Linked DNA regions of Homo sapiens: region 1 is linked to region 2. Evidence: fine-mapped QTL for protein levels in blood plasma. Region 2 holds a variant in brackets. A gene starts in the other region. All regions are shown on their reverse strands.

Region 1 (15,663 bases), not on the chromosome of region 2:
GTCCATAAATCTTCCACTATTTAGCTGTGGAGTCTCCAGACCTACTCTGGCTCGGGAGGCTGCCCTGCTCGCAAATCATTCACTGCTCTGTTAAACTCCTTTACATTTAATTTGGCTGAAGTTTTTCTTTTATCACTATGTATCCACCACATTCAGTGCTCCCTTTTTCTTAATTTTATTTATTTATTTATTTATTTATTTATTTATTTATTTATTTAATTTATTTTTAGAGACAGGGTCTCACTCTGTCACCCAAGCTGGAGTGCAGTGGTGTGATCTCGGCTCGCTGCAACTTCTGCCTTCTGGGTTCAAGCGATTCTCCAGCCTCAGCCTCCTGAGTAGCTGAGACTACAGGAGTGCACCACCATGCCTGGCTAATTTTTGTATTTTTAGTAGAGACAGGGTTTCACCATGTTGGCCAGGCTGGCCTTGAACTCCTGACCTCAAGTGATCCTCCCTCCTCAGCCTCCCAAAGTGCTGGGATTACAGGCGTGAGCCACTGCGCCTGGCCAGTGCTCCCTTTTTCAGTCCTCATAGTGACATTTGAGGTAGGTTATTCTTTTCAAAATTTCCATTTTACAGATTTAAAAAAAAGCGCCCTTGGAAAGTTATGCCACTTTTCCTGGATCACAATATTAAAAGATCACAATTCATCTTCTAATAATTTGGCAAGCCATCCATGGTCTTCTAAGCAAGGCGCCATGAATATAACGAATATAGAGACAGAAAAAGACCCCTCCCCACTGGCTGGGTTGAGGGACTGGAGAGCCCAGATGGAAGGGCAGAGGTGCAGGCTTTTTTCCTTGTTGCCACTAGATGGCAGTAGGGCACCCGTTGTCAGCCCTGGGGCAAGGTCACCGACTGTCTTTGCCTTTGCCTCCAGCAAGCCAAAACCCTGGGCAGACTCAATCCAAAAATAAACAATCAAAGAGCATGTTGGCCTGGTCCTTTGCTAGGTACTGTAGAGCAGGTGAGAGAGTGAGGGGGAAGGACTCCAAATTAGACCAGTTCTTAGCCATGAAGCAGAGACTCTGAAGCCAGACTACCTGGGTCCCAATCTTGGGCTTGGTATTTCCTCGCTGTGTGACTCTGGGTAAGTTACTTAACTTCTCTGTGCCTCAGTTCTCTCAAGTGTAAAGTGACGCTTGTAAAAGTGTCTCCTGCAAAAGAAAGGGCTGCTGGGAGGAGGGGTGTCCCTGGTGTGCACTAAGTACAATATGAGTTTGTGGCTTTTATATTCCTGCCTCTGAGGCACTCACAGGGTAGAAATGGGGAGAAGCCAGTCCAGACAGGTGCACCCCAAAGCAAGAGAGATGAGAAGGCTGCACCCATGCTGGAGCCAGAGTGGGGAAGAGGGCACATCTGCTGGGAATGGGTAGAGCGGGGTGGGAGGAGTCCTGGCAGGGGAGCCGTTCCTATGCAATGGGCCTTGAAGGAAGGGGAGGATGGGTGGATGTGGGGTTAGGTGACTGTGGAGGCGGGGCTGGTCTCTGTCCAGGTGACAGGTGGATGGTGGAGCTGGAGGAGCCACTCGGAGCCTCCAAGGCTGGGGAGGGTGGAGGGGGGAGGCAGGTCGGTGTCCCAGGCCACACCTGTTGACTAAGGGATTAGGATGTTGTGTCCCTGCCAGCCCTCCTCCAATAAGCCCCTCTGGGCCTGCAGGGAGAGGAGGAGCCTTGCCATGTAAACTGTATTTTTAGTTCCCTGTGCCTCTCCCCGGCTGCTATAAGACACCTCTCCCCACCCCCAGCCCTGGCCGCTTGGCTGGAGGCTCTGCGAGGACAGCTGGGGAGAAGGGGAGCTGTGGTCAGTATGATGGATGCTGAGGGGCTGGAGAGGAGCAGCCCTGGTGGGTGGGTTCCTGGGAGTCTGGAGCAAGCTTGGGGGTTCTGCTGCCCCATCAAGGGCCTTGAGCAGGTCCTGCAACTCCCAGGCCTCAGCCCTGCTCTGAGCCCTGGCCTGGCGCTGGTCCAGGAGGGTAGACTCTGCCAGGGAGGCACAAGCTAAGCTGGGGGTGGGGTGGGAGGGCCTGCTGGCAGGAGGGAGGCACTGCCCAGACTGGCCTCCAAAGGCTGGTTCCCAGAAGGAGGAGGAAGAGAGTAGTGAAGATCGTGGGGAGTCCTGGCTTTGAGGAGCCAGAGTTCTCCTTCTTGCCACATCTTTGATCTCCCTTGGTGGTGTCTTAAGCCCAGATTTACCAAAGGGAATTGTCAGCTGTCCAAGGGCTAGCAAATTCCTAGGTCACCTAGATTGGATTTTCTGACCATAAAAACTGTGGGCCAGGTGCACAGCTGCCTGAGGGGCTCAAACCTGTGCAGGTGGGTGCTGGAATCCCCTTTGCTATAGCGTTCTCTTTGTGTGCATGTGACCAGAGGTGAGAGTGGCTGGAGACCGAAGATGGCAGAGCCCGTCTTTCTCCACCAGACTGAGGCCCCCGACTTGCCTTGCCTGGGGAGGGTGCTCAGTGGAAGTCCTGGGATGTTCAGTCTGGACAAGAAAAGTCTTGGGTGAGCCTGCTCCTTCTCTTGTGAGGCAGACTCAGCTGGGCCTCTATATCCCCAAGGAGCAGGCGGAGCTGCCGCAAGGAAGTGCACGTGACATGGAGGCATCTTTTGGTTCGACATAAAAAAGGATTTTTAAAGCTTTAGGTAGTGAGCTCACCACTCCCAGGAGTATTCAAGCAGATGCCAGATGATGATCTGTAGGGAAAACTATGTTTAGTGGGAAATTGGACAAAATACCGTTGAAGGCCTCTTTTAGTCACAAGATACTATGGCCCTATAATTCTAGATTTCTCTGCTTCTAGCTCTCTATAAGTCTGGAATCTAGAACCCAAGTTTCTCCGGTGCTGAAAAGTTGAAGACTTTGACACTCTAGAATTTTAATTCTGGGATCTCAAGATTCCAGAATTGGGAGCCTTGAGGATGATTCTACAAGTCTCAGTTTTGGATTCAAAGGATCCTGTGATATGAAAGGGAAAAAGAGGAGGTCTGACTTGGTGGGATCCAGTTTTGCCCCACTGGGTATCAGACTAATGTGCCCTGCATTCGTGCGTGTGTGTGCGTGTGTGTAGCATGAGCGTGTAAGGCTGTAGAAAGTTTTGCACACAAAGGCAGCCTGGCTTTCCTATCATGTGTCTGCAGCTTCTCTGCCCTGGCCATAATGAAGGCTGTCACAGGGATAATAATAGCCCCCAAACAGAGCTGGTGACTCCAGGTAGCCATAGCAACTGTGAGGTAACGCTGCTCTGTTGTAGAGATGTGTGAGTACAAACAGATGTCGGTGCCTTCCCATTAGCTTAAATGGTAAAACTTAAAAGGTCCATCAACTTCAAAGCTACAGGTTTCCATGAGCATGCCAGTTAATGGGGGCGCTTGCCAAGCGGGTGATAGCTTCATATTAAACATTTCAGCATCAGTAATGGGTTGATGAGATTTTAAATGCTCAGGCCATCCCCAGACAACTCAGGAGGCCAGAGACGGGAGAAGAGCTGGGATTCGGGTAGTAATCAGCCCTGCCCTGCCCCGCACCCTCAGGGGTGTTCTGACACTCTCGGGAGGGCACAGGCCAGAGAGCATTTGAAAACCGCACATTGCGTCTCAATCTCCAGGAGTCTCAGATCTGCCTCTTGGCCTTCCCCAGCGCACCAGGCAGGGGGCCCCAGGTCAGATGTGGCACAGCTCAATGCCATCTCCTTCTTTCTGCCCTCCTCTCTCACACCCTGGACTCACCTCCAGCGAGTGACCAGCAGTAAGGGTCAAACTGCTGAGAGTCTGAGACCGGGGCAGACCCTCTCAGAGTTGTCTTTCCTTCTGAGGCTGGGCCTGGCACAGACTGGGGCCTCAGTAATGGGCTTTCAAATGAATGAATGAACAAAGGAACAAACAGATGACTGACTGACTGAATGAATGAATGAGATCCCCTTTGGCATCCCCATGGCTTCTTTTTTTCTTTTTGAGATGGAGGCTCGCTCTGTTGCCAGGCTGGAGTACAGCGATCTCGGCTCACTGCAACCTCTGCCTCCCGGGTTCAAGTGATTCTCCTGCCTCAGCCTCCCAAGTAGCTGGGACTACAGGTTCGTGCCACCATGCCCAGCTAATTTTTGTATTTTTAGTAGAGACAGGGCTTGAACATGTTAGCCAGGATAGTCTCGATCTCTTGACCTTGTGATCCACCCACCTCAGCCTCCCAAATTGCTGGGATTACAGGCGTGAGCCACCACGCCCGGCCCCCCATGGCATTTTAGCTACTTATTTTGTTACTGCTTCTTCCACTGCTAAAGAGATGGGCCTTTGGAGGTCGGCTGGCCTAGCATTTGGGGTTGACTTCTGGAATGGTCACTAGGGAAGGGGCGCCAGAGGTGCAGCCGGTGCCTCTGACCCTTTTGGTCGCTAGGAGTCAGCCGACTCAGTACACAGGACTCACTGAATGGAGACACAAGGCTCCTCCAGGGAGTGGCGGCTCATGGCAATCCTAGAATGGTCACCAGCCAGGCTTTAGAGACCCACACAGAGGGCGTTCTGACCCAAAGTTGCACTGGGGAACTCCAAGTTTGGGGATTCTTTGAATTTAACTCTTTTTCTAGCTACATTTCCTATTATTTGTCCAATTCTTACCAAACATCTCTGTTCACATTCTGAAGCTGGGATCTGACTGGCAGAGCTAGTAGATGCTGACTATTCAGATGGAGCCCTGACATTGGCTTTCTCAGCTTGGCTGTGACTGGCAGCAGGTTTGCGGGAGAACTGTGTGTCCCAGAACATGACTGGCTACACCTGCACCTCAGCAAGATTGGGGCAGGGCAGTTATCTTCAAAAAGCTGTGTAGGTGGGGCAGTCATTACTGACAAATCCAGTGCAGACCCAGGATGGCCCAAACACTGGCTTATCCTTTCTGAATCTCATCTCCCACAGCTGTAAAGCGGGGTGGTGCTCGCTACCTCACAGAGGTGTTGTAAAGATTAGATGTAATCTTGCCAAGCAGCCACTTTGTAAACTGTATAGTCTTATGCAGATGGAAGGAAGGGCCTGTGCCTACCTTGATCATAGCACTAAACAAACTGTACTGTATTTTCATTCCTCTTAGTTATCTCCCTAAAAAGACTCTGAGTTCCTTGAACACAGGAAGGTGTTTTATTTGATTTTGTTATCCTCAGCATGTAGCAGTGTCTGACACACAGTAGGTGCTCTATCACTGTGAGAGGGATGGATGGATGGGTGGAGTTACAGATGGATAGAAGGATAGATGGAGGGATGGGTGGATGATGGATGGATAGATGGATGGAGGGGGGATGATGAATGGAGGGATAATGAGTGGATGAATGAGGGAATGGGTGGATGGATGGATGGAGGGATGGAGGAACAGATAGATAGATGGAGGGATGGGTGGGTGATGGATGGATAGATGGATGGAGGGAGGGATGATGAATGGAGGGATAATGAATGGATGAATGAGGGGATGGGTGGATGGATGAATGGAGGGATGATGGGTGGATGAATGAATTGAGGGATGGATGGATGAACACATGGATGGATGGATAGATGGATAGATGGAGGAACTGGTGGATTTTGGATGGATGGGTGGATGGATAGATGAATGAATGCCTGGATAGACAAAGAGATGATGGATAGATGAATAGATGAATTAAGGGATGTCGGATAGATGGAGGGATTGATAGATGTTGGATGGATGGGTGGTGGATGGATAGATGAGTGAATGCATGGATAGACAAAGAGATGATGGATGGATGAATTAAGGGATGACAGATGGATGGATGGATGAGTAACTGGATGGACAAGTGGATAAATGGATAGATGGTTGAATACCTGAATGGATTGAAGGAGGATGCATGGATGTAAGATAAGGCTAATCATCCTCCACTCTCTTTCTTTGCAAAACCATCCACCCATTTACTCAATAAACATTTATTCAGTTCAAACTTGGCACAAAGCACCATGTGAGGCCCAAGAGATACGTGGGTTAATAAAACAGAGCTCCTGCCCTCCTGAAAACTGCAAAGAAAGGGGCGTGGCTTCCTGAGTTCAAATCCCAACTCTGCCAGCGACTAGTTGTACATCAGTGATGTTTCCCTACTTTCTCTCAATTAAATAGGGATAATGTCAGTACCTATCACATTGGGAGGTCTTGCGGGGATTAAATGAGTTACCAAATGCCAAGTGTTTGGGACAGGGCCTGGCACCCAGCAAAGTCTCTTGTGAGTGCTGGCTGCTATTATCCTAATGGAGAAGATGGCATGAAAACCAGGAAATAGGATGCCCTTTGGGAAGCAATGCAACAGGAACTTACACAAAGAAAGGAAAGGAGGAAGCAATTAGTGGTGTCTCAAAGGAGTATGTCAAGAAAAACTTTTCAGAGGGAAACCTTTGAGCAGGGTCATGAAAACAGGAGTTCTCTAAGAGATTGTGGACTTGCCTGGGACCACCTGGCTATAAGCACAAAACCATCCGGTTCCTTTCTGTCACTTCTGGCTGGGTGAGGGGTCTCTGGCAAAGGGGCAGAAGGTGCGTGAGAGGTTGCGAATGGCCAGGACTGTCCTGGGGCCAGCCGGGGCACCTGGTGGCCAAGCTTAGAAACATGACAGGTCCTCTTGGGAGGGCTGACCGCAGGGAGCGTTGGGTTTCAGGCTGCTGGCGTCGGCTTCTGTGGTGCCCTTTCTGTCGGCTATGAGAGTCCAGACAGTGCCCAACCTCCTCCCCTTCTTTCCACACGCACAACCACCCCACCCCCTGTGGCCTGAGCTGTCCTGCCTCGCCACAATGGCACCTGCCCTAAAATAGCTTCCCATGTGAGGGCTAGAGAAAGGAAAAGATTAGACCCTCCCTGGATGAGAGAGAGAAAGTGAAGGAGGGCAGGGGAGGGGGACAGCGAGCCATTGAGCGATCTTTGTCAAGCATCCCAGAAGGTATAAAAACGCCCTTGGGACCAGGCAGCCTCAAACCCCAGCTGTTGGGGCCAGGACACCCAGTGAGCCCATACTTGCTCTTTTTGTCTTCTTCAGACTGCGCCATGGGGCTCAGCGACGGGGAATGGCAGTTGGTGCTGAACGTCTGGGGGAAGGTGGAGGCTGACATCCCAGGCCATGGGCAGGAAGTCCTCATCAGGTAAAAGGAAGAGATTCCATTGCCCCTGCCACCCACACCCTAAGATCAAGGGTGTTCAGCTGCAAGGTGGAAAGTTTGCACGTGGGGTAGGTCAGTTGGCTGCATTAGTTAAGGGTGTTAGAACGGTCACTTGCTTTTTCTTTGCTTTTAAGTGTCAGGGATTGGACTCAGGAGAGGGAAAGGAGCCATTTCAGGCTGATGTCAGCAGCTGGAGGAAGCATGAGAATCAAACCTAGGATGCTCAGAGTCCACCAGGAAGAATTTTAGAATTATAGACAGTCAGAGTTAACAAGGGTCCTGAGAGATTTTGTACAGCCACCTCTCTTACAGGATGAGGACAAAAAGGGACTGAGAAGGGGAGGACATTTCCAGAGTCACAGCTCATTAAATGCTCTTAAAGTGTCAAGGTTAAGACATGCTCTTCAAGGGGAGACAGATCTGGTTCTAGACTTGGCTCTGCCACTGAGCCACTGGGTGACCTTTGGGAAAGTACTCAACCTCTCGGAGCCTCAATTTCCTCTCCTGTACAGTGAGGGGATATCCTAATATCTATATCCTAGAGGAGATGTGAGAATTAAATAAAATAATGCATGCAAGAGGCCTGGCATGGTTCCTGGCATATACTGAGTCCTAGAAATGTTAGTAGCTATTACTGATGAAGCCCAGGCTAGGGACCTTTCAAAGCATTGCAATTAGAGAACAGAAGATAGAGGCTCATTAGTGACCTTCGATGTTGAGTATGTCTCTAGTTTGAGAGGTCTGAATGATGTGGTCTGCAAGTATATCCTGCCTTCTACCACAAGGGATTCCAGAATACACCAAAGAAAACAAAATTCTGAGGTTTGTAAATAGAGGGTGGCTGTGGTTTGTACATAGAAGCTCATCTCCTCGTTGCCTTCTATCCCAAAGGTGATACACTCTTCTCTTGGCCCCTTCCCTCACCATTCTGAGCTGGTTCCCTCAGAAGTCTAATAGGTTAAGAATCAACGTTTCTGCCAACGGGAGGAAGGAAGTGGGCGCCGGGGTTGCCACAAGTGAATGGATTGTCTTTGGCACTTTAATTTGCAGATTAATTTCTCCTTATTTGTGAGCCAGAGCCAATTTTCCTCTTCCACTCCGTCGTCCTTTGGGTCTCCCTTGGGCTTTACCCATTTCCAGCTTCCGTCTACCTCGGGAGCATGGCTGGTCCTGGAAGCTCCGTTATCTAAAATTTGAGCCGTTGGTGATCCGTGCTAGAAACACTTGAGGAAGAAGAGTTGAGTTTTCTGTTGACTGTAATGGCATCGTAGTGTGTTTATGTCTTTCTTCTCCTGTCCCTGTCATCTGGCTGCAACAGGCCCTGTTGGATTGCACAAAGTGCTCCCCCGACCAACACACACACACAAATTGACATCAACTCCTGGGCCACAGATATGCCATGTGACCTTGGACAAGTCTCTCCACCTCTGGGCCTTATTTCTCTGCTGGTTGAGCGAAGGGATTGTCTTCCATGGTCTCCGAGATCCCGTCCCACGCTCATGCCCTAGAATTCTCTGAGTCCTTGATGCACTTTTGCCTTTGGCGAGGAGGCAGGACAGTCAGGCGTGGAGGTAGGAGACCAGAGTTTGCAGAGCAGAGGTCTTTCCAAGGTGATTTGGGAGCTGCCAGACCTAAGGCAGTGACTTGTACGTCTTGAAAGAGACTCAGGGTGTTGCATCATCAGGGAGGATCACGGAGGTTTGCCGGGGGCCGGGAGCCAGGGATAAGACATAATGCCTAGGGTTGCTGGTCCCTGAAAGGTCCCAGAGGCCTGGTGCCCTGTCACGTCTTAGGTTGTGGGACATGCAGAGACTGTGCCAGCTGGTTCTGCCCTCTCAGTATTTGGGGTACAGGGAGGATGGCCTCCCTGGGGGCAGGGTGGAGGAGGCTCATGCCCAGGACTGCAAATGCCACCCGTGAGAGTTGGCATCTTGACTTTGTTCTAGATACTGACTCTGGATTTTCTAACTGACCTTGAAAGGTTATGTCTCCAATCTTCTGATTGTAAAAGAGGGCAAATTCCATGAAGCCCAGTCTGTAAAACACTGAGGCCTTCACTGCACGTACACAAACATAAAATTCTAGAACACAGAAGCTGGAAGGTCACTTGGAGATTCTGGCTCCAGGAGTGGGGCTTCGGAAGGGAGGGGGCTGCTGAGTGGGCTCCACACCCCTGTTTTTCCTTTCTTTACTCAAACCTTTTTTGTTTTATTTACTTTGGCTGTTTTGGGGAGCGGGGGGAACAAAGGATTTCAAGGTCATAAAATGTTTGAAAATCACCAGTGGTGGTCACTACTTCTCATTACAGGGAGGAACTGGGCCTGAGAGTCTCCACCGGTTAATGGCAGCCACAGGCAGGACCAAAAATTCCTGGGTGATGGTGATGATAATGATAATGATAATGATAATGGTAGAGATGATGAGGAGGAGAAAGACAGCAACCATTTATTCAGCACATACTGATTGCTGGGCTCTGTTTAAGTGTTTCACTCACTGAAGCCTGACAACAATCTTATGAGGTAGATATGATTATGATCACCACATTTAACAGAGAGGTTAAGTAACTTACGCCAAGTCACACAGCAAGTAAGAAAGGAGCTGGAATTCAAATTCAGGCAGCTTGGATCCAGAATCCTTGCTCCTTTTTTTTTTTTTTGAGATGGAGTCTTGCTGGGATTACAGGTGCATGCCACCATGCCTGGCTAATTTTTGTATTTTTAGTAGAGACTAGGTTTCGCCATGTTGGCCAGGCTGGTCTCGAACTCCTGACCTCAGGTGATCTGCCCGCCTTGGCCTCCCAAAGTGCTGGGATTACAAGCCAATGAGCCCGGCCCAGAATCCTTGCTCTTGACCACTATGCTATACTGCCCCATGACCTTGCCACACGCAAGACGGGCTGCCACCCACGCTCTGGTTCTTTTATTCTAGTAGAGCCAGAGGGGTGTTCATGGATCTGACAATGTGCTCCATGTTCCATGTGAGTGTCCAATTGGGCCTCAGTTCAGAGAACAGCAGGAAAATGGCCTCCCTTCTCTCTGACTTGGACTGAAGATCTGTCTGATGAACCAGGCCCACTGACAGCAGGGTTGAAGCTGGAAACACAGGCCAGCGGGGCTTTCTGAAATACTAGAGCAAACGCCCTCCGTCCATTTCCACAGGCTGAGGGGCTTTCATCTGTTCATTTTCCGGATCAGGCAAATCCAGGAGAATGGCCTTCTGTGGCTGCCTGGGGGGCTCCTAGCTGCAAGGCCTGGGCCCACAGGAGGCAGGCAGCTGTGTGGTGCCGGAATGATCTTGCGGGGAGACAAATTAGCCCGATTCTGCTCTGCTGTTTAAAGTAAATATGGGGTGGGGTGGGGTGGCTCAGGCCTATAATCCCAGCACTTTGGGAGGCAGGATCGGGGAATCGCTTGAGTCCAGGAGTTCGAGACCAGCCTGAGCCACATAGTGAGACCCCCCTTCTCTACAAAAAATAAACAAAATTAGCTGGGCGTGGTGGTGTGTGCCTGTAGTCCCAGCTACGCGGGAGGCTGAGGTAGGAGGATCACTTGGGCCCAGGAGATTGAGGCTCCAGTGAGCCAAGATCACACCACTGCACTCCAGCCTGGGCAACAGAGCAATACCGTGTCTCAAAAAAATATTAATAAAGTAAATATGAGCTCTCTCCCTGGCTGTCTGGTGTTGAGTGGAAAGAAAGGCATTGGCGGGTCTAGACCCTTTTGGTTTACATATGGATGAGCAATGATCCAGAGAGGCTAAGTGACTTCAACATCACAGAGCACATTGGCGCCAGAACTGGGACCGGAACTCAGCTTCCGTAACTGTCAGTCCCATGTTCTCTTCCCTAGATATCAGAGGGCAGGGGCAGGCCCCAAAATGTCTGAGACCCCCAGCTGCCTTGTGGCCCAAATTCTTGGCCCTGCTCTGCCTCAGACAGTCTGCTTTCAGCGTCCTGACCTCTGACCATCGCCTGTGCATGCCAGGTCTTGCATCTGTCAGGCGGGAGTTCAAGGATCATTGTCGCCAGATAATAATAGTCAGGAGCTCAGGGACCCTTGGATGAAAGGTGTCAGAGACAAGCCGTCAGTGACGCACGAGGATTTGGATAAGGTCCTGGAGCGAGGTGGCAATGTTGGGCACGGCGGCAGACCATGCCCAACATGGGGGAAGGGAGTGTATGTGGTTCAGGCTTGTGCGTGTCTCTGTGTGTGTGTGCAGGTGAGTATGGCGTGTGCTGGGATATATTTATGTGTACCTCTGTGTGAGTGTGCAGGCCCATATGTGAGTGTGCACACACATCTGTGAGAGCCTGCATGCATGTACACGTGTGAGGTGTTGATACATGTCCATGTAGGTATCAGTTTGCCTGTAAATATCTCTGTGTAACAATAACAAAGTCCGAATAGTCATCAAGAGTATAGACATGAAGCCAGACTGCCTGGGTTAAATCCCCAGCTAGTTAGTCTTTCGGTGCCTCTGTTTCTTCCTCTGCAAAATGGCGTCTACCCCATCAGGATTTTAAAATCAGTTAATATGGCTGGGCGCCTGTAATCCCAGCACTTTGGGAGGCTGAGGCAGGCGGATCACAAGGTCAGGAGATCGAGACCATCCTGCCTAACATGGAGAATTCTGAGAATTGCTCAAACCCAGGAGGTGGAGGTTGCGGTGAGCAGAGATTGCACCACTGCACTCCAGCCTGGGCAACAGAGCCAGATTCCATCTCAAAAAAGAAAAACAAAAAACAAAAAAACCATGAACTCATTTTCAGGTTGAGGAGCTCAGCATCCTGGTTGTGAAATACCCTCCTCATAAAACCCTGGGATGGAGACTACGGGGATCAGGTGCTTCCTTGTGACAACTTCTGGGCATGGTGGCTCAGGGCGCAAACTGGAGTGTGGCCACAATACATACTGTGTACTTTTACAAGGATGTCACAGAGCCTGGGTATCATAAAAGAGGAGCTTTTCAAGGAACTGAAACCATTAGACAGGAGAGAGAGCCCTGGGCAGACAGGGTTGCCCGTGCCAAACATTTCAGCTGTGGCACAAGGGAAAGGGTGGGAGTTATGAAACTGTTCCATTTTGGGTTTAGGTCTGGGCTCTGCCGCTAGCTAGCCAAGTGACCTTGGCCACTTATCTCTGTGGTCTTCCATGAGTAAAAGGCGGAAACTCACTCCTACCCAGAGGGCAGGTCTGACTCCCTTTAACCAGCACCCACCTGCTCACAGCAGGAAGGACTGAGGTCTAAAGCTGGAGGTGGGCAGGAAGGACTGAGGTCTAAAGCTGGAGGTGGGCAGGAAGGACCAAGGTCTAAAGTTGGAGGTGGGCAGGAAGGACCGAGGTCTAAAGCTGGAGGTGGCTGCTCAGAGTCCCAGCAGAGGCCTCTGGGGCACCTCACTGAGTGCCTGGCAGGAGTGGGTGCCTGTCTCAGGGCTGGGTTGAGTTGCTCCCACCAGGACCCTTCGTCATCTGCACAGTGAGGGGACTGGGAGGTTCAGAGAGTCACAGCTTGGGCTCAAAACAAGCAAGAGGTTTCTGAGTGTGAGGATTGCTCTGGAGTGGAATGGCCCTCACAGGTAGGAGTGAGCCTCCTGTAGCTAGAGGTATTTAAGCAGCTGAAGGACAATCCCTGGGCAGGAAGCTGCAGAGATGGTCGCAGCGTGGACTAGAACTGCTGTTTTGGTCACTCAGACCTCATTCCAGCCTGGCTTCTCTGGACAGCACCCCTGCAATAGTGAGCTGGTGACTTTACGCCTCAGAACCTCGGTTTCCACATCTGTAAAATGGGAATTATATGACACTCACTATGTGCCAGACACCCTGTTGGTACATAGCACACACTATCTCACTTAATCCTTCAAGTAGGGACAAGTTATCCCCATCCCTTATATGAGGAAGCTGAGGCACAGAGAGGTGAAGTGAATGGCCCAAGGTCACACAGCTGGGAAGACAGGGAGCTAAACTTGAACTCTAGTCTGGCTGCCCCCAGACCTCACACCGCACCTCCCATGCCGACTCCAGCCTTCCCTGTGCCCACAGGCTCTTTAAGGGTCACCCAGAGACTCTGGAGAAGTTTGACAAGTTCAAGCACCTGAAGTCAGAGGACGAGATGAAGGCGTCTGAGGACTTAAAGAAGCATGGTGCCACCGTGCTCACCGCCCTGGGTGGCATCCTTAAGAAGAAGGGGCATCATGAGGCAGAGATTAAGCCCCTGGCACAGTCGCATGCCACCAAGCACAAGATCCCCGTGAAGTACCTGGAGGTAGGAGCAGAGCCTGGGCAGGTGGGAGGATGCGGGGAAGGCCTCGGGTGGGGCAATGGGATCTGGGTTCGAGTCCAAGCTCAGCCACTAACTTGTGGGATGACCTATGCCACTCTTCTCTGTGCCCCAGGTTTCTCATTTGTAAAGGGGACTGCCACCCACTTTGCCTTCCTCCTGGGATTGTTGAGAATGAACACACTTAGCATTTTTAATTTAGTATGCCAAATTCACATCTTATTACCAAAGAGGAAAGGGAGAGGGGATATTGGGTGCAAAATTTGCATCCTCTCCATGGGTAGGTACCATTATCATATCCACTTGATAGATGGGGAAACTGAGGCTCACAGAGGTTAAGCAGCTTGTCCACGGTCACAGGAGGTGGATAATGGCAGAGCCAAGATTCAAACGCAGGTCTCTATTACTACAGAACCCCAGCCCCTAACTGCTGTGCCACTGGGAGTCTGGTACATGCAGGACTTATGTGGCAGGAGCTCAGCAAGTGGGGCTCAATTTGGGGTGGGGGTGACCAGCAGGTTGGCTCTATTGGTTCCAGCATCTTCACAGATGAAGAGACAGGACCTCGGTTTCCAGCACAAGCAATTGGTTTGGACCTCCTGAGATGGGTTGGAAAGTTGGGTGGATCAGGGTTGGGGGCAGGAGCCTGGGCTTCAGGTTGTGTGTCTATAACTGGTGGGAGGAGGCGATTTGGGGAGAGGAGGGAGCTGGGGATGAAGGACCACAGGGACAGGTGCATCCCCCGAGGGTAGAAACAGCAGGAAGTCTGGTGCAGCCATGAGGATTAGGATGTGGTGATAGCTACCCGCTGGGATGGGCCACAGTGAGCATTTGCTGCCATGCCTAGCACATGGCATCCATCCTCAAAGTTGCCTCATGGCCAAAATGACTGCAAGAGCTCCAGCCACCTCTTCTATATTCCCAACTGGAAGCAGGAGAAAGAGAGGAATGCTCTCTTTTGAGGAGTTTAAGGAGTCCCAGAAATCTCATCCAACAATTTTATTTACATCTCATTGGCCAGAAGTTAGTTACGGAGCCATCCTGTCTGCACGGGAAGCTGGGAAAGGTAGTCTATCACCCCTCCAAATACAACTAGTGTTCTGTTACCAAGGAAGAAAGGGAAATGGATATTGTGGACGTAATTAGCAGTCTCTGCCCCAGGCAAGTACCCTTCTCATCCCCATTTTGCTGGTTTGGAAACTGAGAGCTCAGAGGGTTTAAGTAGCTTGCCCAAGGTCACACAGCTGATAAGCCAGGAGGTACAGTCAGATCCATGGTACTCTGGAACCAGGCTCTGAATCCACTGTGGCACAATATCACCCATTGACAACCACCGCCACCCCTCTTTAACTTCGACCTTTGCACCCCACCCCACAATTGCGCAGAGTCCTGCCTGCCCAACTGCTCCACATCACCAGCGTGAACAGACAACCCTGCATGTGAGGCCGTCCCTGCCTGCCCATCTTCTCTCTGCAAATCCCTGTTCATCCACTAAGGCCCAGTGCGAAGCCATCTCCCCTGCTTGGAACCCCAGGCCCACGAGGCTTTCAGCGGTTCCATCTGCCAGCCCCTCCCTGCACCATGGCACTTTATCTTCATCTCCGGTCATGGCACTGCCAGGCTGTGTGATAATTTGTCTCTTTGCCCAGCGGTCTCCCAGCAGACACTCAGCTCCCTAGGGGCTACCATTTCTGTGCCCCACTGGCACGTGTTTGGCTCACCATACACTTCCAATGACTGAGTTCTCTCTCTAGAGAGGAAGAAGCCGAGTGTTGGATAGAAAAAACCATGCAGCCAAGATATCACAACCAGTTGGCCACTAGAACCCAGGTCTCCCTAAAACATGCTTAATCTGATGCATAACCTCTGCAAAAAATTGAGACAGAGCCCAGATGTCTGCTTTTCCCCCTCACGGTGGACCTTCGCTCTGCGCTGTTCATAAGACAGTCTCCACCTCACCTGTGGACAGATTGTCTCTCTGAGGGACTGAGGGGCTGTACAGGGTGGTGGGTGCCGAGAGTGTTTCCATTTCTCAATTATGCAGTGGCTCCGTTCCACTGTTTTCTAGATATGAGTGGCTCTGCCATGGACTCCAGAAAGTCTGAGCTGGGGGCCCAACCAGGCCATCTGGGTGGGTGAAGTCACACATGGAGTCGGGGCATAGGTGGCCCTGGAACTTGATTCTCTCAAGTTCTCTAAGGACAGGGCTTGCTCCATGACACCCTGAGCCCCCACTTTGTTTTGTGGC
Region 2 (15,663 bases):
CATTTCCGTTATTTGCTACAGCATCCATGGAAAGTGAATATACTCAGTAAGCATGTGTTTGTTTAAGTGAAGGAGGCCCTGTGTGGGAGGGATGTCAGCTGGCTTGGAATGTTTGAGAGACAGTGTTCTCCAGAGCAGTCAGTGCTCACCAGTGACAGCGAGAGGGTCAGAGAGCCCTTAGGCAGTGACAGAAAGAACGAAAATGAGGAGATGGATTTGGGAGTCATTTCAGAAGCAGAATCTGCGAGACTTGGCTTAGTGAGCACGATAGGAGTCCAAGAAATGACAGCAACTTCTGGCTTGGGGGCATAGGTACATAGGGTGCCCATCAAAGTGAGGGAACAAAAAAGGCAGAGTCGGTTTGGTTAAGAAAAGTCATGGGTTGGGGCCAGGCTCAGTGGCTCATGCCTATAATCCTAGCACTTTGGGAGGCGGAGGTGGGTGGATCACCTGAGGTCAGGAGTTCGAGACCAGCCTGGCCAACATGCTGAAACCCCATCTCTACTTAAAAAAAAAAAAAAAGTCAGCCAGGCATGGTGGCGGGCACCTGTAATCCTAGCTACTTGGGAGGCTGAGGCAGGAGAATCACGAACCCAGGAGGCAGAGGTTGCAATGAGCTGAGACGGAGCCATTGCACTCCAGCCTGAGCAACATGAGTGAAACTGCCTCAAAAAAAAGAAAAAAAAAAAAAGCCATGGGTTAGGTTTGGACTTAGGCACGTGGGGTGGCCTGGAACCTCCGGAGAACAAAGTTTCTGCAGAAAGCAAGGCAACACACCGGGTCTGATACCTGAATGAGAGATTGGCAGGGGCTTATGATGGTCACAGGTAACCGATGTCCTGGAGATGAATGGGATTTCCTAGAAATTGTGATGTGAGATGAGACCTGGCAGAAAACACCAAAGTTTAAAGGGCAGGTGGTAGAAGCACAAACATTGGACAACGGAAATATTCGGGGGAAAATTTGGAGAATTTTTTGAAGGAAGCAGAGGTCAAAAGTACAAGGCTGGGCACGGTGGCTCACACCTATAATCCCAGCACTTTGGGAGGCCGAGGTGGATCACTTGAGGTCAGGAGTTCCAGACCAGCCTGGCTAACATAGTGAAACCCCGTCTCTACAAAAAGTACAAAAACTAGCCGGGTGTGGTGGTGCGTGCCTGTAGTCACAGCTACTTGGGAGGCTGAGGCAGAATTGCTTGAGCCCAGGAGGCGGAGATTGCAATGAGCCGAGATTGCGCCATTGCACTCCAGCCTGGGCGACAGAACAAGACTCTGTCTCTAATAATAATAATAATAATAATAATAATAATAATAATAATGTAGCAGTAAGGTAGGGCTAGCTGTGTATGAAAGTCATATCCCCTAAATGACGAAAATTTCCAAAAAGTCCAGGCTTTCACATTTAGGCAAAAATTCTTGTCAGAAGCAAAGCCAAAAGAATAGAAAGTATCGCTGCTTGTAATGGCAATGACCTTAATTAACTTTCTCCAATGTGCAGGATCAATGCCTTGTGTGGGGATTAATTTATGGCCTCAGTGGTTGCAATTGAGTGAGACTGAGAAATGAAGGCTTGGGGAAGCCAGGGGCAGCTGCATCCCAGCCTGAATACCAATCATTGGTTTAATAGATATGTTCCACATCATAGGTTTATTAATACCTTGTCTCCACTTCTAATCATTTCTGAAAGTGGGCAGGGTATAAATTAGAAATGGATTTGTAAATAAAATATTTGGTCAAAATGGAACAAGTCACACTGGCAGGGGAAATATTGCGATAGGCTGTGATTAAAATCCGTCTTTACCGGCACAGCCAGAAAAAAAAAATAGAGGTACACAGAGATCCTTGAAATTTTCAGTTTAAGGAGGAACTAAGCACCAAGCCACTGGAGCAGGTCCTACCGTGTGCTGGCCAGAGAGAGAGGGAGCCATCTCTTGGTTCTCCCAGGAACCTGGGCAGAGGCCAAGTGAGGATTGGTAAGGGCCCTCATCAGACAGGTGGGAAAACAGCAGCCTTGGTTCTAATTTAGGTTGGTGCAAACATAATTGCAGTTTTTGCCATTACTTTTTTTTTTTTTTTTTGAGATGGAGTCTTGCTCCATCACCCAGGCTGGAGTGCAGTGGCAGGATCTTGGCCCACTGCAACCTCCGCCTCACAGGTTCCAGCGAGTCTCCTGCCTCAGCCTCTGAAGTAGTTGGGATTACAGGTGCCCACCACCTCGCCTGGCTGTTTTTTTTTTTTTTTTTGTATTTTTAGTAGAGACAGGATTTCACCATGTTGGCCAGGCTGGTCTTGAACTCCAGACCGCAAGTGATCCACCCGCCTCTGCCTCCCAAAGTGCTGGGATTACAGGCATGAGCCACCACATCTGCCCAGTTTTTGCCATTCCTCTCAATGGCAAAAACTGCAATTACGTTTGCACCTACTTAATAGTTTTGATATGGTGTTAATTGTGGAGATTTTGCATTAATTTTAATTTTTTAAAAATGTCCCAGTCAGTGCATCCAAAACAACCAAAAGCAGGGCCTGAAGCAGAGCATGAACCCGTGTTGATAGCAGCAGTAAATCACAAGAGCCAAGAGTTGGAAACAACCCAGCGTCCATCAGTGGATGAGTGGATAAACAAAATATGGGAATACGTAGAGTGGGATATTGCTGAGCCTGAAAAAGGAAGGGAGTTCTGATACCTGGTACCGTGCAAATGAACCTTAAAGGCATTAGCAGTCGAGGGAAATGAGCCCGTCACAAAAGGACCAATACTCCATGATTCCGCTGATCCCGAGGTACCTAGAGGAGTCAAACTCCCAGAGACAGAAAGTGGAAGAGTGGCTGTGGGAAGGAGAGGACGCAGAGTTAGTGCTTGTGAGTTTCAGTTTGGGATGACGAAGAGTTCTGGAGATGCACGGTGTTCAGAGTTGCACAACAATGCGAGTGTATTTAACGTGATTGAACTCTACACGAAAATGTGATTAAGATGGTAATTTTACGTTATGTGTATTTTACCACAGTTCTTAAAAAATCACACTTAAGTCTGGATCTTGATGAACTAGTTGCTGGTCCTGCCTCTGCTGCCTTCTTTGCCTCACGGAAGATGATGGATGTAAAAACGCTGAGAAAGCCTGGGCAACATGGCGAAACCCTGTCTCTAAAAAAAAATTGCAGAAATTAGCCGGGTGTGGTGGCACGTGCCTGTGGTCCCAGCCACTCGGGAGGCTGAGACAGGAGGATCGCTTGAGCCCAGGAGGTCAAGGCTGCAGTGAGCTGAAGTCGCACCACTGCACTCCAGCCTGGGCAGCAAGTAAGACTCTGTCTCAATAATAATAATAATAAAATTAATAAAAAAACAAAAAACGCTGAGAAATTGCAAGTGTGACAGGACATCAAGGTGTGCTGTGGGTCAAAGTCACATAGTTCCAGGAGGCGAGGTGGTCGGATCACCCGAGGTCAGGAGTTCGAGACCAGCCTGGCCAACATGGCGAAACCCCGTCTCTACTAAAAGTACAAAAATTAGCCAGGTGTGGTGGTGGGCGCCTGTAGTCCCAGCTACTCAGGAGGCTGAGGCAGAAGAATCGCTTGAATCTGGGAGGCGGAGGTTGCAGTGAGCTGAGATCATGCCACTGCACTCCAGCCTGGGCAACAGAGCAAGACTCTGTCTCAAAAAAAAAAAACAAAAAAACACACAGTTCCCACAGCAAGGAATGAGAAGCCAGTAGCTTCTGAGGCCAACCAAGGCTTCAGGGCAGATGGCACTGTTTGTTCTGTGGTTGGGCTCTGGGTGGCCTTCAGAGCAGGGCCTGCATGGACCCTGAAGTGAGGCCTTCAGTCCCTGGCAAAGCCAACCATTTTCCCCTGTGGACATCCTTCTGGCAAGCAGCATTTGGCGGGTGGGGAGTAAGACGTTTTCCCTCATTGGTTTGGTCAACTTTATTTTGCTTTGCTGCGTTGCCTCTTTCTGGGGCAGATGCCAGGATGTGTGGCTCTCTGGCGGCCAGCCTCCAACCCTTTGGTTTGTATCGCAGTTCTGGCTGTGCTGAAGTATATCTTGGAAGAGTTAAAAGCCTGGGAAGCCGAATGTATTCTGTTTGGTGGATATTCCATTCAGATGTGTTTTGGGGGGACCGACCCATAGGCATCCATGGGGAAGTAGAAAATGCATGCCAAGGCCCCGGGCATGGTGGCTCACGCCTGTAATCCCAGCACTCTGGGAGGCTGAGGCAGGTGGATCACCTGAGGTCAGGAGTTCGAGACCATCCTGGCCAACATGGTGAAACCCCGTCTCTACCAAAAATAAATTAGCTGGGTGTGGTGGCCGGCACTTGTAATCCCAGCTACTCGGGAGGCTAAGGCAGGAGCATTGCTTGAACCCGGGAGGCGGAGGTTGCAGTGAGCTGAGATCACACCACTGCACTCCAGCCTGGGTGACAGAGCAAGACACCATCTAAAGAAAAAAAAAAAAAAAGAAAAAAGAAAAGAAAAGAAAAAATGCATGCCAGTCTGATTCTGCTAAAAGTAAAAATAGTAATAAAAGAATAATATTGGAGCCAGGCATGGTGGCTCACACCTGTAATCCCAGCTACTCCAGAGACTGAGGCAGGAGGACATCTGGAGCCCAGAAGTTTGAGGCCAGCCTGGGCAGCATAGCAAGACTCCGATCTGTTAAAAAAAAAAAAAAAAAAAGGCTGGGTGTGGTGGCTCATGCCCGTAATCCCAGCAATTTGGGAGGCCAAGGCTAGCGGATCGCTTGAGCCCAGGAGTTAGAGACCAGCCTGGGCAACATATCAAAACCCTGTCTCAACAAAAAACAAAAAAAAATTAGCTGGGTGTGGTCTGCGCACGCTTGCAGTCCCTACTACTTGGGAGGCTGAGGTAGGAGGATCACTTGAGCCCAGGAACTCGAGGCTATAGTGAGCTGTGATTGTGCCACTGTACTCCAGCCTGGGCACTGTACTCCAACGTGAGACCCTGTCTCAAAAAAGAAAAAAAGAAAAACACCAATAATATCAACCTCCAAAATGGTTATCAATGGGATGAAGTTATCGCTCTTCCTTCTTACTCATAAATCATGGCCCCAGCTCCCTGGCTGGCCAGGACAGTCATCTTCTGATTCTCCTTTACCTGGAGCAAGTTTGTTTCCTGGCTGGATCTTTGCGTCTTTGAGTGAGTCTCCTCTGACACCCCTCCTAGCCCAGCCCACACCCCCGAGATACCGCAGGCGAACTGAAATAATGAACTTCCCCTCAGCTTTTAGATGGGACCAGTAAGAGGTTGATATGGGGGCTGATGGTTGTAGTTTTCCTCCAGAACAGGCGTAATCACACATTTTTCATACAGGGTCAGATAGTAAATATTTTCAGCATTGCGGGATGGAAGATCTCTGTTGAAACTACTCAATGGTGACGAAAGCAGCCATAGAATGGGCGTGGCTTGGTGTTAATCTAACTTTATTTACAGACATTGAGATGTGAATTTCTTATCATTTTCATGTGTCATGAGATATTCTTCTTCTTTTTATCTGTAAATTATTTTATTTTTATTTTTTATAGAGATGGAGTCTTGCTGTGTTGCCCAGGGTGGTCTCAAACTCCTGGCCTCAAACAATCTTCTTGCCTCAGCCTTCCAAATTACTGAAATTACAGGTGTGAGCCGTGATGCCCAGTTCCTTGATTGTTTTGGGGGTTTTTTTGTTTTGTTTTGTTTTTTGAGATGGAGTCTCACTCTGTCGCCCAGGCTGGAGTGCAATGGCGTGATCTCGGCTCATTGCAACCTCTGCCTCCCGGGTTCAAGCAGTTCTCCTGCCTCAGCCTGCCGAGTAGCTGGGATTACAGGCACATGCCACCATGCCCGGCTAATTTTTTGTGTTTTTAATAGAGATGGGGTTTCATCATCTTGCCCAGGCTAGTCTTGAACTCCTGACCTTGTGATCCACCTATGTTGGCCTCCCAAAGTGTTGGGATTACAGGCGTGAGCCACCACGCTTGGCCTTTTTTAAAAAAAAAAAATTTTATTTATTTTTTTAACAATTTAAAACTGTAAAAACTACCTTTTGCTTGTGGGCCATACAGCAAGAGGGGGCAGGCCAGGTGTGGCCTATGGGCCATAGTTTGCCAAACCCTGCCCTAGAAGCGTGAACTCCAGTGGGTTCTCCGGGGTGCAAGGCAAGGATCCCATCTGCCGATCATGTCTGAACTCCACTTTGGAAGCCTGGGCAAGTACTGCGGGGTTTTGGAAGGCAGAAGAGTGCAAATCATGGCTCTCCATGTGGCCCTAAGTGTCTAACTGCTAAGCCCTGCTTCCTGATGTTCTTCACAAGAAAAATCCAACATCAGAAATCAGACACTGGCTGGCTGCTTTAGCGCTGTGTTGGCACCAGGTGCGTTGCATGCCAGGCTCTAGAAATAACCCCTCCTATTTTTAACACCCTTGCTTCATCAGAGGGTTTCTAGTTTCTCCCGAAAACAATCTCAGGGCCTAGAGATACGAGTTGGAATTCAGAGCCTCTAAGCCACGTGCGTTGCCCTCTTGTCCCCACAAAAGACCTCAACATACCCGGGTGACCGGCCTTTCCTTCTCATTCGGCGTCAGGGGAGCCCCTGATGTGACTGGGAATCCGAGCGATTTCTATGCAAGGCTCCAGGAAAGCATGAGTTTTCTGAGAGCTTTTTATTTCAAGCCACAGTCAGATTCTACCCAGTTAAAAATGCTTCCCAGGGCTCCTGGAAGCCAAGGAGGGGACGCTGGGCTCACCAGAGAGGGTGTGTTTTATCACCGAGAAAGAGACAGGCTGGCTATTTACACGGAACACCCAGCTGGCAAACACAGGTTGTCCCTGCAATGTTCATAAAGGACAACTGGAGGCAGCTTATCAGAGGCTGGTACAGTGGGGACACCTCTGAGCTCCAGGGGAAGTTGGGCCCCTGCAAACACCTGTCCACCTGCTGGCTCTGCCTCCCCCAACTGTGGCCAGGTTAGGACTCACGTCTTGCTCTATTCCCAGGGGAGCCTGCGGCAGCCCAGAGGAACTCAGAGAGAGGAAGCAGCCTGCGACTGTTGCAGGGGGGCAGATGGGAGCAGGGTGGGGCTAAAATTGCTCCCGCCTCCTCTCTGGAAGGTTCCAGGCCAAGACCCCGCTTCCTGGGGAAGAAGCCTGAGGGTCGCTAGGGCCGCAGGAGGGTTAGTGCTCGGGCTCAGCATCCATGCAGGACTCCCATGGGTTCCGGGGCATTCGAGGCAGGGAGAACAGCAGGAGGGCGAGAC[C/T]GCCGAGAAAGAGGAGGATGAAGGCGGCACAGGCGCAGGCAAAGGACCAGGAGTAATAGTACTCGATCCAGACGGTGTCCTCACTGTCAATCATGCGCTTCACCGACTGCCGCATGACCTCCACCGAGACGAGGATGCAGAGACCTGGGGGCAGAGCCAGGCATGCTCAGGGACCGAGGGGCGTCTGCCGTAGCCACCAGCCCCATCCCAGCCTGTGTGCATGGAGGAGGCGGTGACCTTGCCTTGGGGGAAAAGCTGCCTCAAGGCAGGTTCTAGATGGGAACCTGCAGAAGGATCCATTTGTCCACCCACCACCCTATTCCTGCATCCCTCAGAAGGGCAACCATGTGGCCAGGTGTGGTGGCTCACACCTGTAATCCCAGCACTTTGGGAGGCTGAGGCAGGAGGATCGCTTGAGGCCAGGAGTTTGAGACCAGCCTGGCAACATAGTGATGAGCCCTCCGTCTCTACAAAAAATTAAAATACAATGAAAAATTAGCCAGGTGTGGTGGTGCACGTCTGTAGTCCCAGCTACTAGGAGGCTGGGGCGGGAGGAACCCTTGAACCCAGGAGTTCGAGGCTGCAGTGAGCTGTGATTGTGCCACTGCACTCCAGCCTGGATGACAGAGCGAGACCCTCTTCCTCATCCCCCAAGAAAAAGAAAGAAAGGTGACCACGTTTCTTTCCTTCTTTTGTTAATCATTCTCTGGGCAGTTTCTTTGGGGCCTTGAGGGTTGAGTCGTGGAGAGGAATGGACAAACCGCCAAGCTCTGTCTCCCTCCAACCCACCTGGAGTCGCTGATGGCCTGGCCAGGTTTGCCCCTGGATGGGGATGGAGCCTGGGAAATGCCCCTCACCCAAATCTCGCGGTGGGCATGAGGGTGGAGCGGAGAATCCCCCGCGACATGGTCCCCCGGCCCCGGCGCTCAGGCAGATCCCCCAGTCTACCTGCAAAGGCATAGAACATGGACGCGGGTCGCAGCAGATAGTCCCTCTTCTTCCCGAGGGACAGGAGGACACAGAGGCTGCCCAGGATGATGAAGCCAAGGCTGAAGATGGCGATGGCGGCTGCCGAGATGCTGTACTCTGCAAACACAAGGGACACCCAGCATGCGGCCTCAGCATGGGAGCTCTTGTCATGGCTCGTTAGGGACCACACCATGCACCACAGTGTGTGTGTCAGTGTCTGTGTGTGTCATTGTGTGTGTGTCAAGTGTGTGTCTCTGTGTCTGTCTTGTGTGTGTCATTGTATGTGTGTATCTGTGTGTGTGTCAGTGTCTGTGTGTGTCATTGTGTGTCATGCATATGTGTCAGTGTGTGTCTCTGTGTCTGTCATTGTACGTGTGTGTCAGTGTGTGTCTCTGTGTCTGTGTCATTGTACGTGTGTGTCAGTGTGTGTCTGTGTGTGTCACTGTGTGTCATTTTGTGTGTCATCATGCATGTGTATCAGTGTGTGTCTGTGTCACTGTGTGTCATTTTGTGTGTCATCATGCGTGTGTGTCAGTGTCTCTGTGCGTCTGTGTCTTGTGTGTGTCGTGTGTGTGTATCTGTGTTGTGTGTGTCTGTGTGTGTCAGTGTGTGTCTGTGTGTCTGCCCACTCACCCTGTGTGCAGCTGTCTGGGCGCAGGCAGGCACGGGTCTGTACTCCCGACAATGGGTGTGCGTCTGAGCTCTGCGGATCCTGAAAAGCTCCCAGAGCCCACCGCACCCTCCTGGTACTCAGGGAGGGATTTCTAGGCCAGGGAGGGACTCAGACTGTCCCTGCAGACTCTAACTATCACATGCCACCAAGAGCCACCACGGGGCTTCTGAGCATTTGTTCCACATCCACACCTCCCGTCACAACAGCTGCCCTTGTGTAGGGGCCTACCAGGAGGTGCTGCTTCTGCAAACGCTCCCTGGCCCCGAGGTGTGGAAGCTCCGGGCCCTGGAGATGGAAGGCGGCTGCCTGGGGCCTCCGGAGCGGGGAGCTGACAAGGCTGTTGTTCAAATGCACCACAGGCTTCTTCTCATCAGGCGTGAGGAAGTCAGTGCTTTTGCCAATGACTTTCTGGCCCAGTGGTGCACAACACAGAAGTCCCCTCTTGTCACCCCAGACCCCTTTCCACCCAGGCTCACCCTTCTGAGTGGTGAATTCGAAGATCTCCGAGCTCTCGCCGGGGTTAAAATGCCTGAAGTAGGAACAGTTCTTCTCTGCAAAGGAGGAGACAGACTGTGAGTTGAGGGGAGCAACCCGTAGCAAGGACAGAGGCCTGGCAGAGAGCGTGGTGTCATTCTGCTCGGCATGCAGGGGGCTCTGGCAGCCTCTCTTCTCCCCAGATCCTTAATCTGGGCTGAAACATCTGTCTTTGACCCTTAGAACAACATCTCAGTGGGATAATGAGGTTGCCTGCAGGGCTGGGAGGTCTTCAGGGAGCTGAGGCTGGATGAGTCTGCAGGGCAGACGGCCTGTGGGTTCTGCACCCCATTAGGCAGACAGGGTAACCGAGGCCCAGGCTCAAGCCATTTTTCAGGGTGTGCAGGGTGCACAATCAACAAAGAACCAAACAGCAGTCTCTGTTGGGGCCGATTCTGCCCCCCCAGGGGACACTTGGCGATGCCTGGGGTTATGGTGGTGGTGAGAGGGGTACACCTGGCACCCAGCCGGTAGAGGCCACAGACGTTGCTGAACATCCCAAGACACACAGGACAGGTCCTCCCAACATGGAATGATCCAGGCCAAAATATCAAGAGTGTCAAGGTTGAGAAACCCTGGATCAACCCCAAACCTGGGACTGTGTTTCTCATCAGAATCCAGGCACACCCTGGTTCATTGGTGGGACCTGGGAAACAGTGTTTTTCAAAAGCTTTCTGGGAGAGCCTGATGTGCAGCCAGGATGGGAACCCTGCTCCAGGCCCCTTAAAATGCCCTGCAAAGGGCTTTTTCCGAGTGGCCATTGGGATGGCCTGGATGCAGATGGAACCCCTACGAGGGCTGAATGTGACCATCATGTGGTTTCACTGGGTCCCTGGTCTTTGCGAGACAGCCCAGATGAGACCTGCCCCCACAAAGCCGCTTGGCCCACCTGATAATTGTCATAAAAGCTATGGAAAGTCTGTGGGCAGTAGGAACGCAAATCTGAATTTGATGAGGGAGAGGGGAGGGGCTCAGCACAAGGAAATTCATGCTGATTTAAAATATAATTTCATTTCCATTTTTCTCTTTCAGTCTCTCTCTCATAGCTAGGTATACTATAAAATCAAAGCACAGGCCGGGCGTGGTGGCTCACACCTGTAATCCCAGCACTTTAGAAGGCTGAGGCAGGAGAATTGCTTCAACCCAGGAGGCAGAGGTTGCAGTGAGCTGAGGTCGTGTCACTGCACTCCAGCCTGGGTGACAGAGTGGGACTCTGTCTCAAAAAAAAAAAAAGCACAGTCTTATTTCTTGCTAAATACGGTTTATCTTCTTTGCTCTTGATTTAGGAAGTGGATGAATGGGTTATTTTATATTATGTTTCCTTCCAAAACTAAATTAGTTTGCTTTTTATTTGTGGAGGCCCTTCATTGATTTCTTTTCCTGTGGATCAGTGACCCTTAAATAGAAAAACATCTCTTTCTCTAGTTGAGATGGTGTCTAGTTTGCCAATTCATTTCTTCACTTCCAGGCTTCATTTAGATGCTCATAAGGCGGTTGATGCCTAGTTCTTTCTGGAAATGTACCTGCAGTGATACCAAGGCTTTTCTTTGGGATGAAGACTTTCTTTAACCGGACCTAAATCATTCTTCTTGCACCTTAAGCCTGTGGTCTCATACCATGCCCCTCCTTCCCCCCAGAGCCAGGGCTGCTGCCTCTCCTGAGGTTGAGGAAGCAAATGACCCCTGGAGATGGGATCTGGTTTAGCAGCAGTACCCATTCCTGGCATAAACAGCCTTCTCTGTGTGCTTCTATATTTAAATCACTTTCCTTTTGAACCGCGTTACCTGGGGTGTCTGACTGCTGGTGGTGATGTCAGAATTGGTGCTCTGCTATTCTCTCTGGGCATCCGGTGCTATTTTAAAGCATAATGCAGATCTCTTCTATTTGTTAGATTATTGGCTGTAGATCTCTCGAATCACTGCTTCAAAATGGCCCATGCTATGTCATAAGTCTCCATGTGTCTCCCTCTGGACAAAGAAACATTTCTGTTTCTGTTTCATTCTTGAAGGGCCAATTTCAGTTGTCAGAATTGACTGAATTCAAGTGTATTTCATGGTCAGCTGCCTCCCTGACTGCTCAAAAGCCATAAGTTAAAATCCTTCCCAGCGGAGGGCCCTGAGATGAGGGCCATGGAGTGCCTTGCTGGGGGCACAGCTGTTTGCACCTGGTGGGTTGCTGAGGTGACTCTCACACAGGTAGCATTTGGCTCACCAAATCCCCACCAGATAAACGCCAGGCTCCGCCTGGCTGCTGGCTGCTTGGATAGAAATGATCTTAACTCAGACACAGGGGTAGGCTACGTGTCTGCAGGAGCCAGGTTGTGAGCTTCTGGGGGGATGCTTTTCTTTTGGTGGTCCAGGTACAGTGTTCCTCCTCCCTCTTCTCCATTAAGTGTCCTCAAATGGAGGGAGGGGGCCTCCAGTGGGTAGGATTCCTTCTCAGGGTAACAGGAAGCCTCAGCTTCACTCTTACATGGCTGAACTGGGGGCCTGAGGACTGATGGGCTGACCTCTCCCCTTTCTTGGGCTTAGCATGTGAAAAAGACCGGTGTCTCCTGCCCTGAACCTGAGAGAAACATCCACTCCTGGGCTATGTGGCTGCCCATTGGAGACCATAAACCCTTTCATGGTCTCTAATGGCCCCTGTAGGGGTGGGGGCACGTCAGACCCAGGCCTCATTTAGGACAAATCAGGCCAGGCATCTGCCCATGTTACTCAAGAGGGTGCAGGGTCCTGTTCAGATGGACAGACCCTACTATGAGCCCCTTCCCTCCCTGCCCTGTTCCTGGGTCTAGGTGGATATTATTTGGGAAACTGAGCATCCAGGGCAACGTAAAGAGGAAGGACATCCGAGGTGGACCCATCTTAGTCATGGGTCAAGAGGAGAGGGACCGTGACGGTCCTGTGCAGACTCTCAGTCTTCCTGCCTCTGCCTCTGGGATGCCCCTCTCTGCCCCGCTGCCCTGGCTTCCATCACACTTACACAAAGCTCAGGGATTGCAGCTTTGCTTCCGACTAAGTCAGCAAAGATTCCAATGCCAGGATGATGATCTGGGGTGTTAGGAACTCTGAGGTCGTGCCATTCTCCTTTGTCTCTGCAGATGGCTTATGCTGATTTTAATCTCCTTATTTCTGTAAGACTCAGCGGTTTAAAAATATTAAATGGGTTATTTATTAAAAATATGGTGAACTCAGCTCTCAGACTTGACTGGGGGATGGAATAGTCTGGCTAACCCAGTGTTCTGGTTAAGGGCATCAGTAACTGTGCAGAACCATGTGTAGTGTGCCAGTTTCAAAGAATTAGAGCAGAAGCCACATTTAGCTCCAAGCTGAACTTGAGTTAATAGGGATCTTTCTTTGATAGTTGGAACAGCTGGCAGGATTAGTGGATGCCTTGGGTTATCACTGAGAATGTATCAGTGTGCCAAGTGACTGTCCATGGAGACTTTCATATATTCAAAGATACTTTGTGGATTTGTCCAAAACCAAAGAAACTGGTACTTTAGGGGTGCAAGGAAGCCTCTAACTTGCATTGATGTCAGTGTTGTTTTTAGCCTTTTGGTAAAAGAAGTTCTATCAGCTCCCAACAGTGGTTTCTCTGGGCTGTGTCTCCTTCCACATCTCTGATTGAAGAATTTTATAAAATGGGCTGGAAATCTCCAAGACCTGACCCTAGAGCTTCAGAGCACTGCTCTTCCATGGGAGAAGCCTGGCTTTGGCCTAGGCCTCTGGCATGGACTTCTGTGGGTGGTGAAGTGAGCCCATGAAATTCCTGGGGTCAGTAGTATCATGCTCTTTTATACAATCCCAGTTCCCGCACTGAGAGAAGATGGACCAGTAGGGAAAATGGGGCACTAGGCAAAGTGGGCCCTGGGGCAACCTGCCTCCTTGCCCTAAAGAGGCAGAGTCTGAAAGAAGCAGCACTTCACCCAGCCCAAGGGCAGGGGATGGCCTCTTTGCGGGTTCATTTGGACTTTCAGAACACATAGTCTCTCCTTTGGGAGAGGCTCCTACTCTCATTCTGGAGGCATTGGAATTGGTCTTGGATGTTGATCTTGTACATGGAAGTCCTTCTAAGACTGTTTGGAGTCTAAGACTGTCTAATTTGGAAAAATTAGACAACTCTTGCCCACTGAGCCTCCAACATTTTAAGACTAAGTGGGACCTTGAGAAGTCTGCTCCACTGCACCAGCTTCTGGTCCAGCTGCCCTCAAACTATGCCATGTCAAAAGCTGGACTCCTTGTGTTCACTTGGGTCAGAGCTTTTAGGAGCTGTGTTTTCATGCACAATAGAGGGTGTGAGAAGGAACTGGAGGGAAAGGAGGCTCTGGATTCAAGACTTGAGTGGAGAACCTCTATTTGTTAGCTGGTTAGCCTGGGGAAGGCTATGCTCAGCCTCCCTGTTCCTACCTGTAGAATGAGACCCACCTGTAGAATGAGAACCACCTGTAGAATAGGAACCACCTGTAGAATGAGAACCACCTGTAGAATGAGACCCACCTGTAGAATAAGAACCACCTGTAGAATAAGAACCCACTCACTGGGTTGTTGTAAAGTAGTTAATGTATTGACTAAAACGGTGAATGTTAGGGTCTGAGTGTGAGTCCTGGCTGCTCTGCTCATCACCTGTGTTACCTTGTCAAATATCTCAACTCTCAGTGGTTGATTTTCTTTATCTGTAAGATTGGGATGATGATAATAGCATGGCCTTCACGGAGGTTTCTGTGAGGATTAGGTGAGCTAATATATGTATGTCATCCCACCACCTTCTGGCCTCCATAGATTTGGGGAAAAATTGGCTGTTCATCTTATTAAGGATTCCTCATATGTGGTGAGTTGTTTCTTTCCGTTTTTAAGATTCTCTGTCTCTATCTTTCAACAGTTTGATTATCATGTGTCTAGATGTGGATCCCTTAGAGTTTATTCTACCTGGAGTTCATTAAGCTTCATAAATTTGTCGATTTTTAACGTTTTTCATCCAATTTGGGAAGCTTTTGGACATTATTTTTCACATACCTTTTTTGCTCCTTTCTCTCTTTCCCTCTCCTTCTGGGACTCCCTTTACATAAACTTGATGGTGTCCCATAAGTCTCCGAGGCTCTCGTCATTTTTCTTTATTCTTTTTATCTGTCTGTTCCTCAGACTGGCTAATCTCAACTGACTTATCTTAAAGGTCACTGATTCTTTTGCCTGCTCAGATATGCCATTGAGCCCCTCTAGTGAATTTCTCATTTTAGTTATTGTACTTTTCAACTCCAGAATTTCTATTTTGTCCTTAAAAATAATTTCTGTGTCTTAATTGATAGTTTCTATTTCATGAGGCATCATTTTCATCTTTAATTGTTTTGATTGTTTTTTCTTTGGATATATTTACTATAGCTGATTTAAAGTTTTTGTCTAGTAAGTCCAATATCTGGCTTCCTTACAGATCTATTGACTTCTCCCTGCCCCATGTATGCCCCTTATCATTTTAGTTCTTTGTGTGTCTTGTATTATTTATGTATGTATTTATTTATTTAGAGACAGAGTCTTGCTCTGTCACCCAGGCTGGAGTGCAGTGGCATGATCATAGTTCACTGTAGTCTCTAACTCCTGGGATCAAACAATTCCCTCACCTAAGCCTTGGGAGTAGCTAGAATTACAGGCACATGCCACCACTCCTGGATATTTTGTGGGGTTTTTTTTTTGTTTTTTTTTTTTTTTTTGGTAGGGACAGGGTCTTGCTATATTGCCCAGGTTGATCTCAAACCCCTGGCCTCAAGCAGTCCTCTCACTTGGCCTCCAAAAGTGCTGGGAATACAGGAGTGAGCCACCACACCCAGCCAGTATTTTTTAAACAATATAATGTGGCAACTCTGGAAATCAGTTGTTCCCCCTTCTTGAAGATTTGTTCCCGTTGTTTGTTTAGTGACTTTTTTGAACTAAGATGGTAAAGTATGTGTTTTTTGTCATGTGTGATCACTGAGATCCCTGTTCAATTAGCTTAGTGACCAATTATAAATTTCCTAAAACGCTTGGCAACAATGCCTCTCCCAGTCTTTACTGAGGGGCTCTGTGCATATGACTTTCATGCTCAGCTAAGCCACCCACATCTCTGCCTTAGCCTTCACTTCCTGCTTGAACAGAGTCTCAAGATAAGGCAGAGAGTGCTTAGGGCCTTCTCAGGTCTTTCCTGAGCATGCATATAGCATTGTGCATGCATGTGGCCTCCTAGATTCCCAGGAATATGTTGGAGCTT

Direction of the effects. Positions count from the first base shown, and alleles are read on the strand shown. Strength reflects both the effect of a copy and how common the allele is.
For the plasma level of the protein whose gene starts at base 6,955 in region 1, allele C in region 2 goes with a lower level than allele T (weak association).

Evidence for each region. PIP is the posterior inclusion probability: the model's chance that the variant is causal. The UK Biobank Pharma Proteomics Project read protein levels with antibody pairs (Olink). The fine-mapping took linkage between variants from a reference panel, not from the people measured, so its PIPs are less certain.
Region 1: it holds the start of MB, and the variant in region 2 is fine-mapped to the plasma level of the MB protein (UK Biobank, PIP 0.94).

What each region holds. Positions count from the first base shown.
Region 1 is chr22:35,608,621-35,624,283 of GRCh38, reverse strand. It overlaps MB (myoglobin), which reads left to right and starts at 6,955. Exons shown (of 3, transcript NM_005368.3): 1 at 6,955-7,121; 2 at 13,178-13,400. The coding sequence starts at 7,027. RefSeq lists enhancers at 748-1,042, 1,701-2,216 and a silencer at 12,195-12,244.
Region 2 is chr17:67,047,776-67,063,438 of GRCh38, reverse strand. CACNG1 (calcium voltage-gated channel auxiliary subunit gamma 1) reads right to left here. Exons shown (of 4, transcript NM_000727.4): 2 at 9,369-9,443; 3 at 8,199-8,336; 4 at 6,642-7,394. The coding sequence ends at 7,168. Among named protein-coding and RNA genes, the nearest start is that of CACNG1, 11 kb to the right of the region's middle. RefSeq lists enhancers at 9,388-10,232, 11,437-11,516, 11,587-11,716 and a silencer at 14,115-14,315. The variant C/T (reference allele first, on the strand shown) is at 7,251.